2 linked regions of the Homo sapiens genome follow. The protein of the gene in region 2 purifies or fractionates together with the protein of the main gene of each other region. This does not show direct contact. Each region holds a gene or a part of one and is shown on either strand. Other genes may lie near its edges.

What was found.
Region 1: the proteins of ARMH4 (region 2) and ELAPOR2 purify together in Homo sapiens (affinity purification with mass spectrometry; one large-scale study listed by BioGRID and IntAct). This does not show direct contact.

The regions. Positions count from the first base shown.
Region 1 is NC_000007.14:86,940,830-86,944,654, forward strand, and holds part of ELAPOR2 (endosome/lysosome-associated apoptosis and autophagy regulator family member 2 isoform 1 precursor), read right to left. Parts: intron 1,276-3,825; coding exon 1,189-1,275; intron 557-1,188; exon of another isoform or gene 544-556; coding exon of another isoform or gene 523-543; intron 1-522. UniProt on the Homo sapiens protein: Functions as a regulator of the BMP signaling pathway and may be involved in epidermal differentiation.
Region 2 is NC_000014.9:58,128,171-58,131,995, reverse strand, and holds part of ARMH4 (armadillo-like helical domain-containing protein 4 isoform 1 precursor), read left to right. Parts: intron 1-274; coding exon 275-484; intron 485-3,825. UniProt on the Homo sapiens protein: May modulate immune response and may play a role in inflammation. Down-modulates STAT3 signaling throught direct interaction with IL6ST, resulting in the inhibition of phosphorylation of STAT3 at 'Tyr-705'.

The sequences.
Region 1 (3,825 bases), on a different chromosome or scaffold from region 2:
ATCCACCCAACTATTTCAGTGAAGCAGTACATTAAGTAAAAGTAGTGCATTAAGCACTTTCCCTTGTATTAAGCCTTTTTAAGTAAAAAAAGTATATTTATTTTTAAGGGTTACTTGTACCTTCAAAGCCCAGCTGACTGGGTGTTAAGGTATACGGATCTTAAATGTTATTAATATTATTCTCAGGTATACAGATTTTTAAAAATATTCTGAAAGGGTATGTTGTATTAATCACCCAAGGATGAGGTACCTGCTACAACCACAAAGACAAGGATTGATGGTCACTTATTGAAATAGAGCTTGATCTATATTGTAGGCACTATATTAGGCCCTTCCCACATATCTTCTGATTTAATCATGCAAGATTTTTCCTATTTTGCAAATGAAAACATCAGACACAAAGAGATTAAGCAAATTGCCTAAAGAAACACAACTATAAACCGGAGTTAGATATTAAATCCATGTCTCTCTCACTCCAAAGAGATGGTGCCTCAAATAATAACAGATTCACTGAATTGTTACCTGGTAATTGCCTTCAAGCATTTAAGGAGCTGTCCTGTAAGGAAGCAGGCAGTTACTTTACTTCATGTAACCAGAGAAGGTAGAATTTTAACCAATGTGTGGCAAATAGGTAGGAGGCAGGTTGAGGCTCCAAAGAGATATTTTGTGATAAACAGAGCTGTCCAACAAATGGAGACAGCACAGTACCCAACAAAACAAGCTTGAATATCACTTGTTGGGCACAGCGCAGAGAAAGATAAAAGGAATTCACAGATCCTTCCAATGAAAAGAGCCACTAATTCGATCACATATGACAGGCACATTTGTAAACTTAGAAACTCAAATGTTTTGTATATTAGTTTTGAACAGCCTTCTTTCTCATGGATGCCCCTTTGAAAGGGAGGAAAATTAGACTACAATGGGAAGGGGAAGGAAAAGGAAACTAAGAAGAAAGAAAAAGGTAGGAAAAAGACCCTGAAAATTGAAAGCTGAGTCCATGAAGCTAGGGGTAATTTTTTCCGTAACCAGAAATCATCTAAATTAATAGTTAATTTTGATATTTTTTCTTAAAATATACTTTTCTTAAAACGTTATGAAAGGAAGGGGAAGTTGGGAAAGAAGAAAAGGTTGGGGAAAAAAAGAAGAAGGAAAAATTGGCAAAGAAGAAGGAAATACAAAGAGACTTACAGAATGAGAGCCCCATTCTCCATTGTCTGTAAGTTTTACCCACTTGTCAGTGGTGGTGTCCATCTCCTGGCACTGATCATTTTGAATCTGTGGATTAAACACAAGAGCCCTAGTAAAGTGTCTTGAATAACAGCTTTAATTAAATTCTGTACCCAGCACAGACTGCAAGAACCTCGTTCAATACCTTCTAAACAATGGCCATGAGTAATTCTCAATAAGTAAACATACCGAGACCTCTGGAGCCTAAGTGACAACTGCATAAGACTGAGAGGTTCTAAGTAAACTATCTTCATCATTGTAACAAAAAGCCTAGCTCATTAGAGAGAGGAATGTGGGAGAACACTGACAATGCACACTAACACTGTGACTAACACTGACAATGCACAGAAAGGAGACAAAGTATAAAACAACTACCCAACTTACCCAAACTTTTTCATAGCTTGCATTCACCATGCAGGCCCAATAGTATAAAAATAAACAAAGCTGTTCTTTATAATATTTGCAGCAGTAAAATTTTAAATTAAAAATAAATAAAGTCCACTTTGTTTTCCATTCCCTAGGACTTAATCCAAATGCAAAAGTAAGTGGCTATGGCCAAAGTCAAAGTTCCAAATTTTTATTTGGGGGTAAATGGTAATCATTTGCCATGCCAATTCAAATGATTACAGATATCTTTAACACCAAACACCTTTTGCTTTCCAGGCAATTCTTCCAAAATGTCAAGGGGTTGGGACACTACTTTTCCAGGTCTACAATGAATACAGAGACATCAAAAAGTTAGGCCACCTTTCCAATATTGCAAAACAGCAACAGAGTAGAGTTAAAATAAGATCTCATCATCTATATTCCCACCAAAAGAAATGGTTCTTCCTTTCATCTCTAAATCATTTTGTTTCTTCACTCCTCTTCCCAACCAATTTACAAATATTAAAATGTTCTCCTTAAGAGCTATTCCCTAAAGACTTACTAACTAAAATATAGACCCTATTGCCATCCAAATACCAGAGAATATCAGCTACTGAGGGTACTTACTTTAATTGAATTTAAGTGTCATATTCACTTTATAAGCATAAGGACCATTTTAATGCAAGTGTTAAGCTACTTAAAAGCAGATGTGGACCCTGAATATACCTTTAATGGTCAACGTGTAGATAAACTGAAAGCTTTTTTTATCACTGAAAGCAGACGTCATATGTTATCTTGACATTCTACTGGCATTCTGGAGACCTGTAAAACCTAAGTCTAATCACTTAGTCTCTCTAGGCTTCAGCTTCATCATCATTTAAAAAAAAAAATAGAAGGGCTGAATGAAAGTTTCATATAGTTCCAAAATTAAATACTTTGTTGCTGTCAATTATGCAATGCCCATATGTACAACTCTCAGAGAACAGCATATTTCAATCTACAAACACTTTCTTTCCATTAACCATTAGTATGATGACCATGAAGTTTTGACCTTCTGAGTCAATAAATTGCAACCTCTAAAGCTGAAACATCAATAGAAGAAGGAACATGAATTTGCCATCCCTTTTCAGATTATAACCAGAACAAAGGCATCGCTGACAGGAATTAATGAAACTTTATGCCTTAAGGGTACCTTTATTGACATCTCTCAAAGAACTTATTGGGCAATACAAATCTAAACACTTATTCTCACAATTAGATAACTGCTTTGCTTCTTAACTTTATTTCAGTTTTAGCAATGTTGCCAAAAGTATCCAATGAAACAGGGAATTGTTCACTCTCAGAAGGATTTTGCAAACTAAATGCAGGTTAAACATAAATCTGTTTGAATGTTGCTTAACATTTTAAACTCATCAAAAGATATTAGTACTAGGAGACTCCTTAAAAGATATTGTCACATAATCTACTTTATAGAAGTGAATGCTTAGTGCCGGAAGGTTCACTTAATTGCTCAATAACAGTGTTAACAATTACAGAGTTGGAACTAGAGCCAGAATCTCTTGACTTCAAATCTAAAGCTCATATTTCCATGAAAAATCTCTCTTGCTACCAAACTTCTGATTTAGAAATTCCCATTTCCAACAATACAAATTTGTTTTAAAATTTTTAGTACATTTGTTTCTGAAATCTGGACTGCAGAAACATTTTTCAAGATAGTCTCCCATCTATAAGCACAACACACACTTGGTTTGGTATAAGAAGTCAATCTGAGAACATTTGCTCAAGCATTTGTGTCATGATAAATATTTGCTAGATTAGATACTGTTTATTACTAATGGTTAAGTAACTTTAGTGGTAACAGCTTATTTTGTTAGATGATTACTTTATCTTATCTTCCGTAATGTTATTTAATTTCTTTTCAAAGACATCAAGTATCCCATTCATTGATGTTTTTAGACTGTACTAAATTCACAGAATCAGAAACATGCAGCCACTTCTACTTCTGAAAAAAAATTGCTCATAAATACACTTAAATAATTTTTGTTAGCAAAAAAATACTTGAAATTGCAAAGAGAAAAAAAACTTTTAAGTGAAAACTAAAATTGGTTTAAAAAACACAGTTTTGACAGAATACTATCTGTAGCTACTAAAAGTAATGTAAACATGAATCTTGGAGGAAATATTTGTCACACAAAAAGTCTAAACCAAATGGTTATATAATGAGCATAACTA
Region 2 (3,825 bases):
ATTGCCAATAGAATAAATGGGAGATTAAAATTTAAAAACAAAGTTCTGATTAGAGATAATACATTTTCCTGTAAGACAATACATTTTCCTGAAAGTCTTTGCTTTGGGGAGTTGGATTAATACAATATGGGAAAGGAGAGCTGACCCAAGTGCCAAACTTGCTGTATTGTATGATATTGGTTTAATCATTTCTTGCCTAAAAAGTGAAAGCACATGCTTACATTTGCCATAATGATTATCTTGTGGGTCAAGTCCTGTCTGTTGTGTTTGGCAGAACAAATGGACACAGTCACAGGGCCAAATGAGGAGTTCACACCAGTTCTGGGATCTCCAGTGACACCTCCTGGAATAATGGTGGGGGAACCCAGCATTTCCCCTGCACTTCCTGCTTTGGAGGCATCCTCTGAGAGAAGAACTGTTGTTCCATCTATTACTCGTGTTAATACAGCTGCCTCATATGGCCTGGACCAACTTGAATCTGAAGGTATTCATGCTTTGAAGGGGATCTTTTCAAGGACTGGTTGAGTGAGTCACTGAGCAAATGTTTTTGAAAAAGAATTAAGTAGGAGTATATTCAATCTGCAGTATAGATCAGAGGACAGTAAACTACAGCTGGGCCAAATCTGGCCTGCCACTTGTTTTTGAATGGTTTGTAAGCTAAGAATGGTTTTTACATTTTGAAATGATTGAAAAAAAAAGTCAAAAGAAGAATAATATTTTGTGACATAGAAAAGTTATAAAAATTCAAATTCCAGTGTTCATAAATAAAGCTATATTGGAACACAGCCATACTAATTCATTTTCATATGTGTGTGGCTGCTTTTGTGCCATAGCAGCAGAATTAAGAAGCTGTGACAGAGACTCAGTGGCCCACAAAGCCTGAAACATTTATGATAGGGCCCTTTATAGAGCAAGTTTGCTGACTGTGCTATGGATCTGTGGTTCTCAACTATAGTTGACCATTAGAAATACCTTGGAGAGCTTTTGAAACATCCCAGTGCCTGAATCACTCTCCAGTGATTGAGATTAAGATGGTGGGGGGTGGAATCTGGCATCAGCATTTTAAAAGACTGCCTTAGATGATTTCAGTATTCAAGCTGGATTGAGAATACTAGGTTAAGATGGAGATGTTGAGTTTCCCCACCAGATTTTCTTGGTTGCAAGTTTTAATGTGGGGTGTATTTTAACAGCATTGCTCTGGTTGTTAATGCTGGGTTATTCTCCCTTAGTAACATCTCTGGGTTAGTCTGTGCTACTATTTGGAGATAGGCAGTCTCTTTATTTACTAAGACCAAGAAATTCATGCCAAATTGTACTTTCCAAGACATTGGCTTTGAGCATGTAAAAGAAACTTGAGGCACGGCTGCCTATCAACAAATAAGAAGACTAGAAATATGACACATAGTCACGTAATTAATCAGCATTTTGGCAGGTGAATAGTTCCTGGCTGGAGATACAAAATGTCCAGAGATTTATAGTGCAGAATTTCTTAAACTAATCTGGAACACTGGTAAGCTTTTGGGCACTCAATTAGCCATGTGTTTGCTGCAGTAAGAGACATAGGATGTGCTATTATTTTTTTTTGTCTAAAGCGAAGGGAAGGAGGTTGAGCTAGGTTTGCAGCTGACTCTGGTGCAGACTTTCTGGGTAACACTGGTTGGCTGCTGACAGAGGAACATGACATTTTAGGAGCAGTGTGGAGAATTCCACAGTAGAAGCCTGGTTTAAGAAACAGATCAAAGTGGGCTCAAAGGCTAACAGCTCTTGCATTCCACATTAAGATAAATACTGTATGACTTTGAGTTTAGCGTCTCATATAAACTGTCTGCTCTCCTTGATGCCATCTGGAAAAAGCAGGTTTCCCTAAATTAACCTGAGTTAGACATGACAGCTTTACCCAGCAGGGCTCATTAAATCAGAGAAAAAAAATATTTGTGAATAATCCATACTTGTGAAACTGCAGTAACTTTCTAAATTTAGTAGATGATGGCAGTTGTATTGAAATATGTTAGAATTTTCCGACATGCCTAAGGTGTCCTGGGGTTTTAGTTCTTTTCTTCTACACAATTCAATTTTGCTACTTTTTGATAATATATTTTGTTAGTTTTTGATCTAAATTATCCTTGTCATGGGTTACAAAAATATTTTTGGTCAAAAGATATTATTTTTGCTACATTGTCGGGCTTAGGATTTTGAATTAGCACATTTTTACTCGTAAATGCCAAGGAGTACAACTTATGTTTAATTAGTATACGTTAATAATACCATTGTTAGTTTTATGCTGGTGCTTCTAGTCCTCCAAAAGCTGAATTGACTACACTGATTTAAACAAATCAACCTACTAGACTCCTGGATGTATTGGAGGCCTCTATTTTCAATGCATGTTTTTCTACCTTGCCCGGGAATATAAGTGCAGCTTGAAGCTTTGACTGGGTGAAACATTTTAATTCTTCCATAAGCTTATGCCTAGAGGCAGGTAATTTTTTTTCTTATCTAGAACCCTGTATTACTTACGTCAGGTTAGCAGCCTTTCTTGTTTTAGTCTTTGTGATGAGTTTATATGTTATTTTAATATCTTCCTTTTTCACTAGGGGGCAGGAGCATTTCTCTGGGAAATGAGGTACTTTTCTCCATGGGATTTGGAAAGGGACATCCTTTGTTAGACATTAGACACCAAAGAAGAATGAACCTTTATGGAAATTTCTGAATCCGCAGCTCTGTTTATCCTTTAAGCGATAACTAACAGCCCAAATCAGTCTAAAAATGATGTCTACTTGCACCCTGTCTTCTTCCCTGCTTCTCACATCTCTACAACATGATGACTGAGAGGGGGTATGAGTTTTCAAGGGCTGTCATAACTAAGTACCACAAACTGGGTGGCTTAAAACAACAGAAATTTATTCTTACGCAGTCTGGAGCCTGCAAGTTGGAAGTCAAGGTATAGGCAGGGCTTGCTCTCTCCAAAGCCTCTAGGGGAGGAACCCCAGGGTTTCCTTGGCTTGAGGCAGCATGACTCCAATCTATTCACATGGCCGTCTGTGTCTCTGTGCTCAAGTTTTCCTTGCTTTTTAAGAACACCAGTCATTGGATTAGGGCCCATCCTAATGACCTCATGTTAATTATGTATGCCAAGACCCTGTTTTCAAATATGGTCACATTCACTGGTACTACCGGTCAGGACTTGAACATACCATTTTGAGGGACACAATTCAACATGTAACAGGGGTCTGCTTCTGAAGAGTTTGCCAGCTGTCTGTGAAGACAGACGTGCTACCTGAGTGATGTGAATTGGTAGAGTGGGAGAAGTTTTGGTGTGTTTTCCTTTTCTTAGTCACTGAAGAAAGCCTGCCTTGATAAGTGCCTGCCACCTTGTGCATATTTCAGTGTCTTTTATCTTGTCAGCAAAAATGCAGTTTGATTTTTGAAGGGATAATGGTTTATTTTTCACCTTGCCTGTTACATTTGATTTCTATGTATGACTTTTTTTTAGGGATAAATATTCTCACAATGATAAATGCCTTATACTCATTTCAGGCATACCTCTACGAGGGCTGTATTTAGCAGCTTTGAAATACAAACATAACAAACATGTTCTTTTTATTCAAAATGGGATAATGACAAATTTTATACATATTTTATAACTGCATAAATTAATTTTTGGACATGATCTTTGTATAGGTTGATTTTCTTCTCTTGTTGAATATTAATGTCTTTCCTGCTCTAAAATGCCAACTTAAAATTTCTGATTAGTCTTGAAAACATACCTGGAATTTATGTGGGTTAACTCTTTAAAATATTTTAGTACTAATATTTCTTACCTACTTA